Linked DNA regions of Homo sapiens: region 2 is linked to region 1. The links come from fine-mapping of genetic effects on gene expression. A gene starts in region 1. The other region holds a variant in brackets. All regions are shown on one strand. Distances are between the middles of the regions. Region 1 holds the start of DUSP5-DT (DUSP5 divergent transcript). Region 2 holds the start of LOC105378482 (a long non-coding RNA gene).

Region 1 (8,328 bases):
TGGGGCTTGTAGAGGGATTCTTGGGTTTGCTCTGGGATGTCTTTGGGCCCCTGCACTTGTGGGCACTCTGATTTATCCCCACAGGCCACCTGGCCCACCTTATGGGCTGAGGAGGGCTTGATGGGCGGAGGGAAGCAGAGCTGAGGAGCTGGGGAGGAGCTGGAAAGGACTGCTAGAAGGTTCCACTGAAGCTACAATGAGTAGAACCGGACATGAGAGTTTCCAGGATTCTGTAGACCTGTGAACTCCCTGAATTGTAAGCTGCATGGTGTGTGTGCAGTTTCCAAGGAGAGGGCCCATAACTTTTGCAAAAGGGTACCCCATGACCTTCCAAAAGGTAACCCCAGATTATAACAACAATGACCCAAGACATGAGGGTTAGGACGACTGGTCAAACAAGGGCCAAGAACCCTGAAACACTTCTTGCCCCTCTGAAAATAACTGTTGAGGGGCAAGATTAATGAATAGGACAAGGTCCTGCCTCATGGACTCACAATATTAATTTAGATTTTGCTTTTTTCCCTGAGCCAATTCTCACACTCATTCCAAAGTATTTGGGACACAGGCAAGAGATTAGTTGCTCCATTAAGCCCTTCCAGTCTCAGACACTCTCCTCTTCCTCCTAGACCTGTGGCCGATGGACTCCAGGTCCTGAATCTATGGACTGTGCACCTCCAGTTTTCTGTTTCGCCTTTTATCCAGTGTCTAGGGCCCTGATTTGTGCTGTTACCAACTTTCTCCCCAGGTGCCTCCTAAAAAGCTGGCCACTCTCATGTCTCAGCAAGCACTGAATTCCATTCCACCAACACTGATTCAGCCCTCACCATGTGAGGGTGTTGTGAAGGAGACACAGATGGTCGGATAAGGCCCCTAAGTCTAGCCTGGGAGACTGCAGGTTAATGGCAGGACAGATAACACTCACGGACCAGGCTAGTGGGGAAGGGAAGTGAGAACCCCTAGGAGGGTGACGGCTAACAGGCTGGGGGATTAAGTGGTGGCATCCTGAATGTGCGACAGTAGCTCCAGAGCTGTATGAAGGTGGAGAAGGATTGCTTTACAAAGAATGGGGGCGGTGTGCGGAGGGGTGATGAGAAGGAAGGTGAGAAACGTTAGAGGTGGGTTGTGGCCAATTGGCCAGACCGAGGACCTTAGTGTTCACTAAGGAATTTGGATTTTATCAAGACAGTGCGTAGGTGGCATTGAAAATTTTTGAGCAGAGGAGGTGGGCTCTGTGCTTAGACGTAAGCTTAAGACCACACTGCAGAGGATGAGAGAGCAAGGAGGGGGCTTTGAGACTGGGATACAGGATGCTAATGTAGGGTCCAGTGGGGATGGGGGATAATGGGGCCCTTTAACTACAGCGATAGGCAGGACCACCTACAGAGTTTGTGGGGTCCAGTGGGAAAGGAAAATGCAGGGTCTCTTGCACAAAATTATTAACAATTTAGTAACAACAGAGCATTAAAACAAGTGGGGGTCCCTTCTAAGTACGGGGCCCCGTTTGGCTGCACAGGTCACATACCTGCAAAGCTGGCCTTGGCCATGGGACAAGACAGGATGAGTCAGATGAGAGCTCTGGGAAGCAGGGTCCCAGGACTTAGTAATCTGTTGGATATGGGATGTGAGGAAGCAATCCAGCTGACAGATGACCCTCCTACACCGGGTGCCATGCCACCCTTCTGCTTTCTGGGCACCTTCCTTGGTGTGACCAACTCTAGCTTATTAATATGAATAAACTTCACCCACTCCTCCTTTTCCTGCTACCCTCACCCCAGACCTGCTCCTGTAGAGTCCCTATCTAAAGGTTAAAAACTATGGTGTTGGCCAGGGGTAGTGGCTCATGGGTCATACCTGTAATCCCAGCACTTTGGGAGGCCAAGGTGGGCGGAGCACAAGGTCAGGAGTTCGAGACCAGCCTGATCAACATGGTGAAACCCCGTCTCTACTAAAAATACAAAAATTAGCTGGGCGTAGTGGTGTGTGCCTGCAATCCCAGCTACTCAGGAGGTTGAGGCAGAAGAATTGCTTGAACCTGGGAGCCGAGATCACGCCACTGCACTCCCGCCTGGGCGACAGAGCGAGACTCTGTCCTAAAAAAAGAAAAAGAAAAGAAAAATGCTAACCGGGTGTGGTGGCTCAATCCCAGCACTTTAGGAGGCTGAGGTGGGAGGATTACTTGAGGCCAGGAGTTTGAGCCCACCCTGGCCGACATAGTGAGAACAAGCTTTTTTTTTTTGAGACCGAGTTTCGCTTTTGTTGCCCAGGCTGGAGTGCAATGGCGCGATCTCGGCTCACTGCAACCTCCGCCTCCCAGGTTCAAGCGATTCTCCTGCCTCAGCCTCCCAAGTAGCTGAGATTATAGGCATGCGCCACCATGCTCGGCTAATTTTTTTGTATTGTTAGTAGAGACGGGGTTTCTCCATGTTGGTCAGGCTGGTCTCGAACTCCCGACCTCAGGTGATCCGCCTGCCTCCGCCTCCCAAAGTGCTAGGATTACAGGCGTGAGCCACCGCGCCCGGCCCGAGAACCTATCTAAAAAAAAAAAATCCGGAAACAAAAAAATCTTTGGTGTCCCTCTCCAGTTCTCTCTCCCCATCTCACCCCTCCCAGCATCTCACTTCCTCAATGTGCTCCCATTCCTATGGCCTCCCCATAGCTGCTGTCACTGCCAAGTTCTGGCAAGTCCATATCAGCTCATGTCTAGATTACCCATGAAATCCTCCCATCCATCCCCCAGACTCCGGACCCCACCACCACTCTCAAATAAAGCACCGATCCCGCACAGAGCCGCCTCAGCGATGTTCCCAAATGCTATCCGGATCTTGTCACTGAGTAAGATCCCTCGTTGGGGACTGCCCGGCCAAAGACTAAGACCCAAATGACTCAAAACAGCACAAGGCCCTCTGTTGCCTGACCCTGCTTAATCTGCTAATAAATACCAGAAGGGCCTTAGTCTCCCACATACCTCCAGTACGCACCATGCTGGGGGGGTTGCGTTTTTTGTTTTCTTTACCCCAAGCAGTTTCCTCTGCCTGGAATCTCCCCTCCTGCTTCGCAGCCTGGCTTACAATTCATTCCTCGGAGTTGGCCTCAGCTCTCCTCTCCTCGGGAGGCCTTCTCCAGCCCACGCCCCACCCTGCCACACCCCTACTGGGCGCTCTTCCCCACGGACTACAGGCCTTCCCCTTCCCTCTGGGCTGGGGGCAGCTGGGGCTGAGTATAAGTCTTACTCACGTTGGTGCCGCCAGCCCCAAAACAAAGCCTGGCCCACGTGGGTGCTCCGCGTATGTGTGTGGCTCTAGGCGGAGATGCCGGGGGTGGAAAGAGCCGGTAACAGAAACAGAACGTGCTAGAGGAAGAGCAGCCTGCAGGGAAGGCTGGCACAGATAACCACAAAAAGAAAGAAGGCCCCCGCATCACGTCTTCACCAAGACCCCACTGGCAAGGCGAGGACAGCGCCTTTGGGTGGATGCATCTGTGACCCAGAGGCAATGCTGGCTGTCCTGGTGTCTGATTTGATTGCATCTGATTTCAAAATTTGATCTCTGCTTCCTTCTGAAAACCTCATTCCCTTATGTCAGTTGTCAACAAGCCCTTGTCTAGTGCGGGCAGACTGTTTTCCATCAAGCAGTCCCAGCCAGGCTAACAATAAAATGGTTGGCAGTGAGCTTGGGGGCAGAAACCTGTTTCCATCCATGTGTCCCCGCAGCTAGCAAAGCCCTGGCACACGGCTGACCCTCAATAAATGCTTGCTGAATGGGTGAATTGTGTCTGCTTCCCCAGGAATAGGGGTGGGAGGCCTGAAGCCCCTGGGGACCGGTGGGGGCAGACAGCCTGAGATTAAACTTGATCCATAGATAATCCCCCAAATCCAGAAGCCACCTGGACAACAGTTGGCTGAACTGAGCTCCATCGTGGGATACATGCTGATGGTACTGCTGAGTTCACCAAGGGTCTCCCCGGGACCAGAAAACAGCTCCTCAAAATACAACTTATTATTCTAATCATTATTGGAGAGTGACAGAGAAAAGAGCGTCAATCCTTTGAGGGCAGAATCCATTTAGGAAGATTAAATGGCTATTCTCACCGCCGACCCCCAACCCCCGTTTTTACTTTTACAAACTTTATTATGAAAAATATCAAACATACAGAAAAGTGGAGAAAACAGTATAACGAATCCGGCCACCCATCACCCAGCCTCAGCGATGACCAACCCGCGCCTGACCTCTCCAGTCATCTATACCCCACCCCTCGAGGCAAATCTCCGACGTCCTCTCCTTACACGCGCAGACCTCGGTAGCGACGGGAATCCGTTCCGGACTCCTCTGGGGCCCTGGCCGGCTCCCTCGGCCCTGCTCAGCGCGGCGCGGGCGGGTTCTCAGCCCACGTCCGTGAAGCTGAAGGCCGGATCGTGCGGCGCCGCCCCGCCCCCCACGGCGCTTCCTCCTCGGTCCGCACCGCGAGGGTCACCGCGGCCCCGGAGCGCCTGGGACACTCGACCGGCAGCCGCGGGTGATGCGCGAGTGAGTCCCTCAGCGAAGCGCGGAAGAGAGAACGAAGAGGCGCCTTCCACTTCCTCTCGCTCTAACGCCGGCACCCGCCCCGCGCGTCCCTCGCCCCCGCTGCCCCGCCCCCTGCAGGGCGTGGCCACGGCCCGAGGGGCGGGGAAACACCCATATTTGGCCTTATATGGGCAGCCGCGTCACGGACGGCACTCATTCACATAAAACGCTGCGCGGCCGGCGGAATCCCCGGCTTCTAGGGCGGCGAGCGGCCGGGCTGGCTATCGAGCGAGCGGGGCGGGAACGCGGAGTTGCGCCGCCGCTCGGGCGCCGGGCTCCGTCGCGGCCGCAGCCCCGCGGGTCGCCCTCCCGTGCCTCGCCCGCGGACACCCTGGCCGTGGACACCCTGGCCGTGGGCACCCGCGGGGCGCGCGGCGCGGGGCCGCTGGCCGGCGGCGGCGGCGGCATGAAGGTCACGTCGCTCGACGGGCGCCAGCTGCGCAAGATGCTCCGCAAGGAGGCGGCGGCGCGCTGCGTGGTGCTCGACTGCCGGCCCTATCTGGCCTTCGCTGCCTCGAACGTGCGCGGCTCGCTCAACGTCAACCTCAACTCGGTGGTGCTGCGGCGGGCCCGGGGCGGCGCGGTGTCGGCGCGCTACGTGCTGCCCGACGAGGCGGCGCGCGCGCGGCTCCTGCAGGAGGGCGGCGGCGGCGTCGCGGCCGTGGTGGTGCTGGACCAGGGCAGCCGCCACTGGCAGAAGCTGCGAGAGGAGAGCGCCGCGCGTGTCGTCCTCACCTCGCTACTCGCTTGCCTACCCGCCGGCCCGCGGGTCTACTTCCTCAAAGGTGAGCGCTCGGGGTCCCTGCCACGCTCGCCCCTCCGGCGCCCCCGGGTCCCCTCCCTGCGCCGGGGCGCCCTCCTACACCCTGGGACCGGGAGAGTCACCACCTGCAGGAGTCTGCACCCTGTGGCTTGTTGTGCGCTTGGGAGGGCACTGCAAATGTCAGCACTCAGAGCTCCCCCTCTTCCCCACCCGCGTTCCTCGAAAGCGCCCGGCAGCGGGTCTGCCCGGTGGTCTGGGTGGAGTTGGTTATGCTGCGGGGGCTGCTGCTGTTTAGCAGTTTGGGGGCCGTCGGCTCGTGCCGGGCACGAGCCCCCTTTCCAGACGCGAGCTTCGCCGCTGTCGCTGGGGTCAGGGCTCGGGGCCTTCCTGATAGACTGATCTGGCGGGATCAGCAGGTCGCGATCCACTCTCCCTTGGTGTGGCGCCGTGGTGCCCCCCTTCCTCCCGCCTAGCCAGCTGTGGTCTTCACCGACCCCCTTGCCTTTTTGACCTGGCGAGTCCCTTCCCTTTCCATTTCATTTTATTGCTTTTTATTGTTTCCCTCCGGCCTCTTCTCCCCTCCTAGGTCTTTTCTCTAGCTCAGTTTGGAGCTCACATCCTTTCCACCCTTTTCACCTCCTCCTTCCTCCGCCCCAGGATTATCCCTGGGACCCATCCTGAGCTGAGCCTACAGCCAGCCAGCCACGAAATAGAGGTGCGCGGGGGCAGGGTGGTATGGAGATTCTGCGGCCTTTGATTTGACACCTCCCGGAGCTACCGCCACAGGCCTGCCCATTTCACCTGCCGGGAAGATAACTTTGGCTTCTGGTGGTGGGTGGGTGATTGACTCTCAAAATCCAAAGCATTGGTTTTTTCTGGGTTACTTCCTATGACTGCTCCTGCTTTGTGTTTGAGTCCTTTGTAACCTCAAATGACACCCGGGGAGACCTGACCCACATGTAGAGATGAGGGTTTAGCCCCAGCAGGGCCCCAAGGCCGTGCCAGCCCTGGCGCGGACACCTTGGGATGTAACAGTGTTGGGGATCAGAGCTCGGTGCAGAGAGCCGGCGCCGAGTTAGGAGCCTGTTTTAAAGCCATGCAACTTGAGTTTCACACAGTCCGGGCCAGGAAGATTCTGGAGACAGTTCCCCTCTCTGCTAGCACCTCCTGCTGACTGGTCCCCTGTTGATTTCCTGTTGGAGAGTTAACAGAGGTAGATGGTAATCGTCCTTCTTCTAACAGCCTATCCCCCAGGGGATAGAGGGTTGGCCCTCTGGCTCTGCAGAGGTTTCAGCGTGCCTCCTGATTTCTTTCTCTTCCTAATATGGTTTTTATCTCCTGTGGTTTGGAGAAGTTTCTGCCTCAGTAGTATGAAAGAGGTTCCAGGAGACCCTCCCTGGTCCCACCTCTCCTCCCCATGCTTCTCTAAGCTGGCCCTGCTGACAGTTTAGAAGTTGTCGCCACAAAGTAGGCAGCTCTATAGACTCACATCTCAGGAAAACTGGGTTAAAATGTTTTTTAAAAGAAGGTAACATATACACAGGTAAAAATTTGAACAGCATGAAGGCCCTGTGATGAGAAGCGGGTCTTCTGCATATCTTAGAACCCAGTTCCACTCCCCAGAGACAGTCGTCAACTATTTTTTGTTTACCTTTAGATAGTTTTTCATAAGTATCTTAGAAATAGATTGATTTTGTATAGTCCCTGTCCTGCCTCTTGTATCTATCTAGATCTTGGAGACTTGTCCATATCTGATCATACATGTCTGTTTCACATTGAACCGGTCTCCTGTAATGACCATTAGGTTGCGTCCCGCCTCACTGCTCCAAGCAATGCGGTAGATGTCCTTCTCCATGTGCTCTTGCGTGTGCAGTGCCTTTCAGTAAATCATGAGAATTGCCAGGTCAAGAATTACATGCATTTTAAGTTTCAGTAGAAATTGCTTCATGCCTACCCTTATAACACTACTAAACTTTAAATTGTTGCCAGAGAAAATTTTTATTTCTTTACGTAATTCATGTGCAGATAGGAGTTCAGGTTTTAATCTGGTGGCATCTCAGATCTTGGTGGGGGCAATGCCTTTTGACACTTTCCATAATCCCCTGTCTCCCAAACAACCACTAAAATGAAATGGTGATGACTGAATTGCGTGGTCAGTGCTTATTTATATATAGTATCTGTGCTCTCTCTGTTCCCTGGTGATGTGGTGGTGATTGAAAGCAGACTCACTCCAAAAGAAGTAGCTCTAAGAATTGCCATGGCTTTTGCCACTCGAGTGAGGCACCAGCGAGGAATGTTCTGTCTCTCCACACCTCTGATGGGAGTGGGTGAAAGACTGAGACCATTTAATCTGGAGGATTCCTCTGAATCCCAGCTTGAAGAGGCAGGACCCTGTTTATCTGTCCCTCAACTAAATTTTGTCAACAGCATGCAGGATCCAGCCCACACCCGAACCTCTTATCTGTCCTCCTGATAGCCAACTCTGAAGTAATATATTTAAAGCCAAAAGATGGGGTAGCCTGAAGATTCCTATTTCCCCAACCTTCGTCCTGAAGTTTGGGAGGGCCCAGGTCATTCTGAACTCCAAATTCCCATCCAAATCCTTGTTTGTCTCCTGGAACCCATAATGTCGAGGTCCAGGCACGGGAAGTGATCAGGTGGTTTACTGACTAGGGATGCCTCTTCCAAGGAAGCTGTGGGTCATTGTGAGCCTGCCTCATTCTCTCTTGACTGCTGGAAGGGAAGGGGCCCAGGGGCTATGGCAGAGCATGGGAAGCTAAGCTGCCTATAGCACCATCTTGCACCTCTGCCGTGGCCTCCCGTTGTCGTGGGGAGCATGGTCATTGAGGAGGACCAGGAGCTCATGGGCAGGCGCAATGGGCTGCTTGTGAGGTGACCACAGGGGAGATCTGGGTGTACTAAGTGGGGGCGGGGCAGTTCCAGTGAGCTGAGAGGAAGCGGTAATGGCAAGATGACTCATTCTAGGAATTGGCTGCAGCTTCT
Region 2 (8,328 bases), 50 kb before region 1:
GAGCAGGACTGGCAGAAGTGGACCCCGGGAGAAGTGTGTCTGTGCCTGTGAGTGGGCAGCCACTTTGTGGCCCAGACCCTAGGTGTCCTGTCTGGTGCCCTCCCTCACGTCTACCTGTGGCCAACGTAGTAAAACATAAGTGCTGGACTACGCAGGTGATGCCAGTCCTGATTCTGCCATTGCCTCCCCAAAAGGCAAGGTGGCTTGCCTCTCTGAGTCTCAGAGTCCTCATCTACAAAGTGGGAGTGCAGCTGGGAGGTCCCAGCAAGTAACACCTGCCAAGGACCCAGCACTGTGGCCAGTGCTTCCCAGCACACAACAAATGGTCTTCGTCCACCTTCTGCCTCATCTGCCATCACCACGGCCCCCACCTCCTCGGACTGGAGTCCTGCCCTTCTTTCTGGCTTCCTGGGGCTGGTCACAGCTTGACAATAGCCAAGCCGCCCCTGGTCCCAGATGATACTGGAGACCTTTCCTGTAAGCCATTTTCCCTCTGAAGCTGGAGTCACACAGGTCTTAAAGCCTCAGCTCAGAGAAAGAAGAGGGGGAGGTGACAGGGGCTATATATCAGAGGCCTGTCTCAGCTGTTGGCAGAGATTCCTTCCCAGCCAGGGACAGATGGCATCAGTCTCCTGGGGTCTGGATTGCCTGAGCTCCTGGGGTGGGTGCCAACACCAAGGGTGAGGAATTTGTGTGACCCTGTCACCTCCAGTCAGGGGACTCCCACACTCTTCTTCTTATAGCTGGGAACAAAGTGACAGGTCACTCTGAGGGGCAACTGATGACAGGCCCTTCTGTAACATTTATTTAGAACTGGCAGCCCCTCCTCCTTCCAAAAGGGCCTAAGGGAAAGCACTGACCATTTATGGAAGGCCTATTGTGTGCCCAGGCCTTTCTGCATTGACACTGCCATTGAGTCCCCACAAGAATGAGGAAACTGAGGCTCAGCAAGGTAAAGTAACTTCCTGACATCTGTCCACTAGTCCAAGGCAGAGGAGCATTAGAAAATGAGTTCCTTGACCAGGCATGGTGGTTCACGCCTGTATTCCCAGCACTTTAGGAGGCCAAGGCGGGTGGATCACTTGAGTACAGGAGTTTGAGATCAGCCTGGGCAACACAGTGAGACCGTCTCTACAAAAAATTTTTTTAAATTAACTAGGCATGGTGGTGCATGCCTGTGGTCCCAGCTACTCTGGAGGCTGAGATGGGAGGATTGCTTGTGCCTGGGAGGTTGAGGCTGCAGTGAGCTATGACTGCACTGCTTCACTCCAGCATGCCTGGGTGACAGAGTGAGACCTCATCTCTAAAAAAAGAAAAAAAAGGAAAATAAAGGAAGAAGGAAGGAAGGAAAGAAAAAAAGAAAGAAAGAAAGAGAAAGGACTTTCCTCTGTTATTTTTTAAAATGCAGATCAACAGGGCAAAAAGCATAAAAACAGACAATCATGCCTAGAGAGAGCAATAGTTCTTAACCTCCGGGAGAAGCTTTTAAGAATAGGATGTACATAATGCATTTATAATGCTGATAAGTGCACTAAGCATTTTCTAGAGGGATATATAAGAAACCATTAGTAGCACAAACCTTTAGGAAGAGAAACGGAAGTGGGGAGGGAGCAGTGAGAGAATTTTGCTTCTCATTTTGTGTCTTTCTAGAACATGAATTATTTTCCATATGCATTTAAAAAGTGAAAACAAGGGGTTATCTGGACAGTAGGATTATGGGCCATTTTAATTTTCTTCTTGACTCTTTTCTGAACTAAAAAAGAAAAATATGATTTTAAAAAAACCTTACGAAGCTAATGAAAGCTATGGACCTAATCCCAATAAAATTTTACAGATATATTAATTCATATAATTAACAACCCTTTATAGGAAAGATTGGAGGGAATGATTATACTTAAAAGCCAGGCTAAAACAAGATTTTCATGACTAGAAGGATACATTCCTCTGATATCTATATTGAAGCTACTGTCATTAATAATTAAAAATGGAAAACAAAAACCTAGGCTAATGCGGTTTCTGGAACCAAGCATTTAATTTTACTTTGAGCCCCGTGCCTTATACAGAGCTTGAACAGAGGAGATGCTCAAAAAATCCATTGGTTAGTGGACATTTTGTGCTCACTGGATCCCGAAGCAGGTACCCAGTCAACACTTGTTAACAGAAACCAGTAGTCAAATACTATTGGTCCCAACCACTGTCCCTGGACCCCAGCTGGGACCCTTATCCAGGTGAGAGTCGGAGGAGTGTGGTCAGCCTTGGGCTGAGTTGTGAGATCCTCTCCCCTGCAATGGGGTGAGGGTAAGGAGAGCACTGACCACTGTCACTACCGAGTGTCTGGGAGTGGTGGACACAAGCAGGGTCTTCCTTTCCTGACTGCCCTTTTAATACAGTATGCAGAGGATGTGTGGACTCAGCCTCATTAAATATTTACTGCCTGTCCCCAGCCTACCTACCCTCCTCCAAACACGTGCAGGTGTACAGGTGAGCAGAGGCCAGGGCTGAAACTCTCGTTCTCACATCTCTCTAGGAGCCAGAATCCAACCCCCTAGGATTCCTTTCCTCAGACCCAGGATATGAAATCACACCCAGAACACTGTGGGCACACCATGGCCTCAAAGGCAACACACGTCCATGTGTTGGCACCATCTTCCTCCAAACCAGATGACTTTTCCAGCTTCCCTCTCTGACATAGCCCCACATTCGCCCCATCACTCAAGCTCAAGGCCTCCATTTCCTCCATCTGTACCCCACTACCCCCAGTCCCGTCTCCAGACACCAGATGTTAGGAGCACTTCCTTCGGCAGCAACCTCCAGCCTTCCATCCCCTCTATTCTCCCCAGCAGCCCTGCTACCAGCCAATCAGTGTTCATGTCTGGGCTATTGCAGTAGACTCCTAACTTGTTTTCCTGATCCCAGGCCGTCCACCTCCAATCCAGCCTGCACCAGATGAATTAGAGCAGAGCACTCTTTTCCTCCATGCATGGCACAGCCCAGAAACATCTGAGAGCTTCCCATTGGCTTCAGAATGAGAGTCTCACTTGCTCACCAGCATTCATTTAATTTAGCCAACACTTACATCATTCTGGGCCAGGTACTATTTATTCTAAGTGCTTTGCAACTATTCACTCATTTAAACTTTATAAAATGAATTTGGTACTGTTATGATCACTGTTTTACAGATGGAGAAACTGAGTCACAGAAGGGTTAAGTAACTTGTCAAGGTCCCAGCATTAGTAAGCAACAGAATTCAAATTTGAACCCAAGTAGTGTAGCTCCAGAGTCCTCATTCCTGTCTTTGGGCATTTGTGTCCAGAATGCTCCATGCCACTTCGCTGACTACTTTCCCAAGGCTGAGTGTCTCCTTCGCCTTTTCCAAGCTTCTCTTCCATTTCTAGTGGCTCAGCCCAAGGGCGAGACAAACTGATCTGAGTATGATTGCCTAGTCCTTTCCTTCCCATGAGGACTCCTTTGCTCTACCTTCCTCCTATGTGGACTGCCATCCACACCCCATCTCCAGCTCGTTCTTACCCTCTGTCCAGGCTGAGCTCTTCTCACTTCTCTGACACCTCCACCCTCCATTCTCAGTGGTCATGCACACCTCCCAAAACTTCCCCTCAGCCCTCACCTGGTGCTCTTGTCTAGTCTGTAGTATCAGTCGTCTTGTGGGGTCCGTAGAGATTCTATCTTTCTAGTTCCTTGAGGGTAATGAGAGAGCATGTTGCAATTCTCACTTATCTCCCCCAGTAGTCTGTTGCCAGAGGAAGCCGGAAGTAGCCAGAGGGAGCCAGAGGGACTAGTGAGACTGGACCAGTGAGGCAACCACAGGAAGGGACACAGAGTCAGCTAGGGGTAGGCTCTGCCTTCCTGGAAAAGGCCCTACACAGACTTGTTGGGCCATGCAAGGTGAGAAAGGATGGTCCCAAGATTCGGCTTCTGCCTGCCTCTTCCACAAAGCTCCTGGCACTCTGGCCTCCTCATTCCCATCCCAGGGCATCTGTGCCAAGAATGCTGTGTTCCCATGTTGCTGCAGAGCCAGATTCCTGTCTCACAGCAGATGCTGCCTGAGTCACTTCCTCTTTGAGGCCTTCCCTGACCACTCC[G/A]TCCAATTTGTTGCCATTTCTCTTCCCCTATCTCTAGAGCCTCTCTCTCAGCATTGCCTTGTTTTATTTTTCTTTTTAATACTTACCAGTTTCCAAAGATATGACTTGATTCCTCAACCATTGTCACCCACCACCCCAATTAAAATGTAAGTTTCATGAGACATATCTCCCTTGTTCACCTCTGAACCGTAGGTCCTCACACATGCCTGGCACAGAGTAAGCCACTGATAAATATTTATTGAATGAAAGAAAGTATGGCCAGGGTCAGTAGCTCACGCCTGTAATCCCAGCACTTTGAAAGACTGAGGCAGGAGGATTACTTGAGCCCAGGAGTTGGAGACCAGCCTGGGGAACATAGTGAGATCCCTGTCTTATTTTAAAAAAGAAAAAAAAAGAAAAAGAATGCATGAAGGACCAAATGAATGAATCTTGTTTGTTGCAAACCAATGCAGCCACACATGGGCCTGCGCTTCTCCTGTCTTTCTTTGGCTGGAAAAGACCATCTGTGTCCACAGGCAACTGCAACAAAGAACCTCATCCCAATGAGTGCTTTTGTCAAGATGCCAAAGAGGCCATGTGGGCAGATCTGGAGAGGTCAGGAAATAGGGACTAGGGATGAGAGTGGTCTTGGTCCCCAGAAATTCCCACTTAAGTGGAGATGAGCTGCAGAAACCCTTTTTTGGTTTTAATCTTAATGCAAATCTTTAAAATGTGTACATAATTTTTACCATTGTGGTAGGCAAAATAGCTTAATGTAGGCATAACTGCCTTAACCAACCATTTTCTTACTGAGCTCTCACATGAACCCTAAAAGGTAACTAGAAATCTGTTTTTAATGGAAGACATAGTTGAGGTTCAAAGATATTAAACTACTTGCCAAAAATTACTCAGTTCTAAATTTTGTCCTAGACCAGAACATTACCGAATGATGTTTGACCTCCTCACTCATATTGCAATGAGATCCTTTGTACAGAAGAGACCCTAAGTAGGGGTGGGAGAATATTGATAATATTTAACCCGTATTGAGCTATTTCTATGTGTCAGGCACTTTTCTGAGACACTTAAATATAGAAACTAATTTAATCCTGACAATGTCCTTTTAAGAAATGAACTCTTGTATGGGGTGGGACTGTGCAAGGTGGAGCAGCAACAGAGGTGAGGGCTCAGCAGGCAGTCACAGGATAGGGCTGTGGGAGCCAGGCCACTGAGGTTGGGGCTGACTGAACTCACGGACCTGATACTTTTCTCGAGAAACAAACCAGCTCAAAAGAAAAATGGCATTTGTTGCAACACAAGGAGCCGTGGTGGTTGACCAAACCACTCTGATGAAAAAGTACCTTCAGTTTGTGGTAGCTCTCACAGATGTAAATATAACTGATGAAACAAAGTTAAAAATCATGCAAGAAAGTATTTGCAAGCCTCATGGTGACCTCAAACCAAGAAACATGCAATGGATACACAAAAAATAAAAAGTAAGAAACTAAATCATATCACCAGAGAAAATCATCTTCAGTAGAAGAAGACAGGAAGGAAAGAAAGAAGAGAAAACCAGAAAACAACCAGAAAGCAAATAACAAAATGGCAGGAGTAAGTCCCTACTTTCAATAATAACACTGAATGTAAATGGACTAAACTCTCCAATCAAAAGACACAGATTGCTGGAATGGATGTAAAAACAAGACCCATTGATCTACTGCCTGCAAGAAACACACTTCACCTATAAAGACACAGACAGACTGAAAATAAAGAGATGGAAAAAGATATTCCATGCCAATGGAAACCAAAAAGAGCAGGAGTCACTATACTTATATCAGACAAAAACTATAAGAGACAAAGAAGACCACTATATAATGATAAAGGGGTCAATTTAGCAAGAGGATACAACAATTTAAAATGTATATGCACCCAACACTGGAGCACCTAAACATATAAAGGAAATATTATTAGAGCTAAAAACAGAGATAGACCCCAATACAATAATAGCTGGAGACTTCAACACCACTTTCAGCATTGGACAGATCTTCCAGACAGAAAATCAACAAAGAAAAATCAGACTTAATCTGCACTATAGACCAAATGGATCTAAGAGATATTTACAGAACATTTTATGCAAGAGCTGCAGAATATACATTCTTTTCCTCAGCACATGGATCATTCTCAAGGATAGACCATATGTTAGGTCACAAAATAAGTCTTAAAGCATTCAAAAAAGTTAAAATAATATCAAGCATCTACTCTGACCACAATGGAATAAAACTAGAAATTAATAACAAAAGGAATTTTGGAAACTATACAATATATGGAAATTAAACAATCTGTTGCTGAATGACCAGTGGGTCAATGAAGAAATTAAGAAGGAAATTGGGCCGGGTGTAGTGGCTCACACCTGTAATTCTAGCACTCTGGGAGGCCTACGTGGGCCAATTCCTTGAGCTCAGGAGTTCAAGACCAGCCTGGGCAACATGACAAAACCCTGTCACTACAAAAAATACAAAACTTAGCTGGGTGTGATGGCACATGCCTGTATTTCCTCCTGTATTCCCAGGGGGCTGAGGTGGGATGTTAAGGTTGCAGTGAGTCGAGATCACACCACCACACTCCAGCCTGGGTGGCAGAGCCAGACCCTATCTCAAAAAAAAAAAAAAAAAAAAGAAAAGAAAAGAAAAGAAAAGAAAAGAAAAGAAAAAAAGAAAGAAAGGAAAGAGAGAAAGAAAAAGAAAAAAGGAATGAAAAAACTTCTTGAAACAAATAATAATGGAAAAACAACATAACAAAACCTATGGGATACAGCAAAAGCAATACTAAGAGGGAAGTTTATAGCTAAAAGTGCCTACATTGAAAAAGAGGAAAAGCTTCAAATGAACAATCTAACAATGCAGCTTCAAAGACTATAAAAGCAAGAGCAAACCAAACCCAAAATTAGCAGAAGAAAAGAAATCATAAAGATCAGAACACAAATAAATAAAATTGAAATAAAAAAATACAAAAGATCAATGAAACAAAAAGTCGGTTTTTCAAAAAGTTAAACAAAATTGAGACTAGTGAACAATACAGTCAGGATGGCTAAAGATGACCCCACAAAACCAAAGAGCAAGATGTCTGCTTCTGCCTTTTTGTGTAGACGTGCAGAGAAGAACATAAAAAGAAAAACCCAGAAGTTCCTGTCAATTTTGCAGAATTTTCCAAGAAGTGCTCTGAGGGGTGGAAGACAATGTATGGGAAAGAGAAGTCTAAATTTGATGAAATGGCAAAGGTGGATAAAGTGCACTATGATCAGGAAAAGAAGGATTATGGACCAGCTAAGGGAGGCAGGAAGAAGAAGGATCCTAATGCCCCCAAAATGCCACCGTCTGGATTCTTCCTGTTCTATTCAGAATTCCGCTCCAAGATCAATTCCACAAAACCTAGCATCTCTATTGGTGATGCAGAAGAAAAAAAAAAAAAAAAAAAAGCTGAGTGAGATGTAGAGTAACTTAAATGACAGTGAAAAGCAGCCTTACGTCACTCAGGCGGCAAAGCTGAAGGAGAAGTATGATAAGGATGTTGCCGACTCTAAGTCGAAAGGAAAGTTTGATGGTGCAAAGTGTCCTGCTGAAGTTGCCCGGAAAAAGGTGGAAGAGGAAGGTGAAGAAGACAAGGAGGGAGAAAAGGAGGAGAAGGAGGAGGATGAATTAAAAAAAAAAAAAAAAAAAAAAAACCTGTTTATCTGTCTCCTTGTGAATACCTTAGAGTAGGGGAGGGCCGTAATTGACACATTTCTTATTTGAGAAGTGTCTGTTGCCCTCATTAGGTTTAATTACAAAATTTGATCACGATCATATTGTAGTCTCTCAAAGTGCTCTAGAAATTGTCGGTGGTTTACATGAAGTGGCCATGGGTGTCCAGAGCACCCTGAAACTGTATCAAAGTTGTACATATTTCCAAACATTTTTAAAATGAAAAGGCACTCTCATGTTCTCCTCACTCTGTGCACTTTGCGGTTGGTGTGACAAGGCATTTAAAGATGTTTCTGGCATTTTTTTTTTTTTAATTTGTAAGGTGGTCTTAACTATATGGTAATTGGCTGGAAACCTAAGTTATCAACTGTATATATCTATAGTTTGTAAAAAGAACAAAACGACCAAGACAAACTCTTGAAGCTCTTTGCTTGGGGTTGAGGCTGTGGGGAAGTTGCCTTTTGGAAGGGCCATAGCTCAGGGCATGCACTGTGAGGCTGGACCTGTTGCCT

The links. PIP is the estimated chance that this variant, and not a neighbour inherited with it, causes the effect.
Region 2: its variant is fine-mapped to the expression of DUSP5-DT in whole blood (TOPMed, PIP above 0.99). The same link has a PIP of 0.9 or more in blood mononuclear cells and macrophages.

What each region holds. Positions count from the first base shown.
Region 1 is chr10:110,493,154-110,501,481 of GRCh38, forward strand. DUSP5-DT (DUSP5 divergent transcript) reads right to left here and starts at 3,329. Exons shown (of 2, transcript NR_187547.1): 1 at 3,235-3,329. It overlaps DUSP5 (dual specificity phosphatase 5), which reads left to right and starts at 4,754. Exons shown (of 4, transcript NM_004419.4): 1 at 4,754-5,347. The coding sequence starts at 4,969. RefSeq lists an enhancer at 3,276-3,799 and silencers at 4,281-4,810, 4,821-4,960, 5,031-5,090, 5,211-5,480.
Region 2 is chr10:110,443,470-110,451,797 of GRCh38, forward strand. It overlaps LOC105378482 (a long non-coding RNA gene), which reads right to left and starts at 3,967. Exons shown (of 4, transcript NR_188210.1): 1 at 3,626-3,967. It also overlaps the pseudogene HMGB3P5. The variant G/A (reference allele first, on the strand shown) is at 4,101.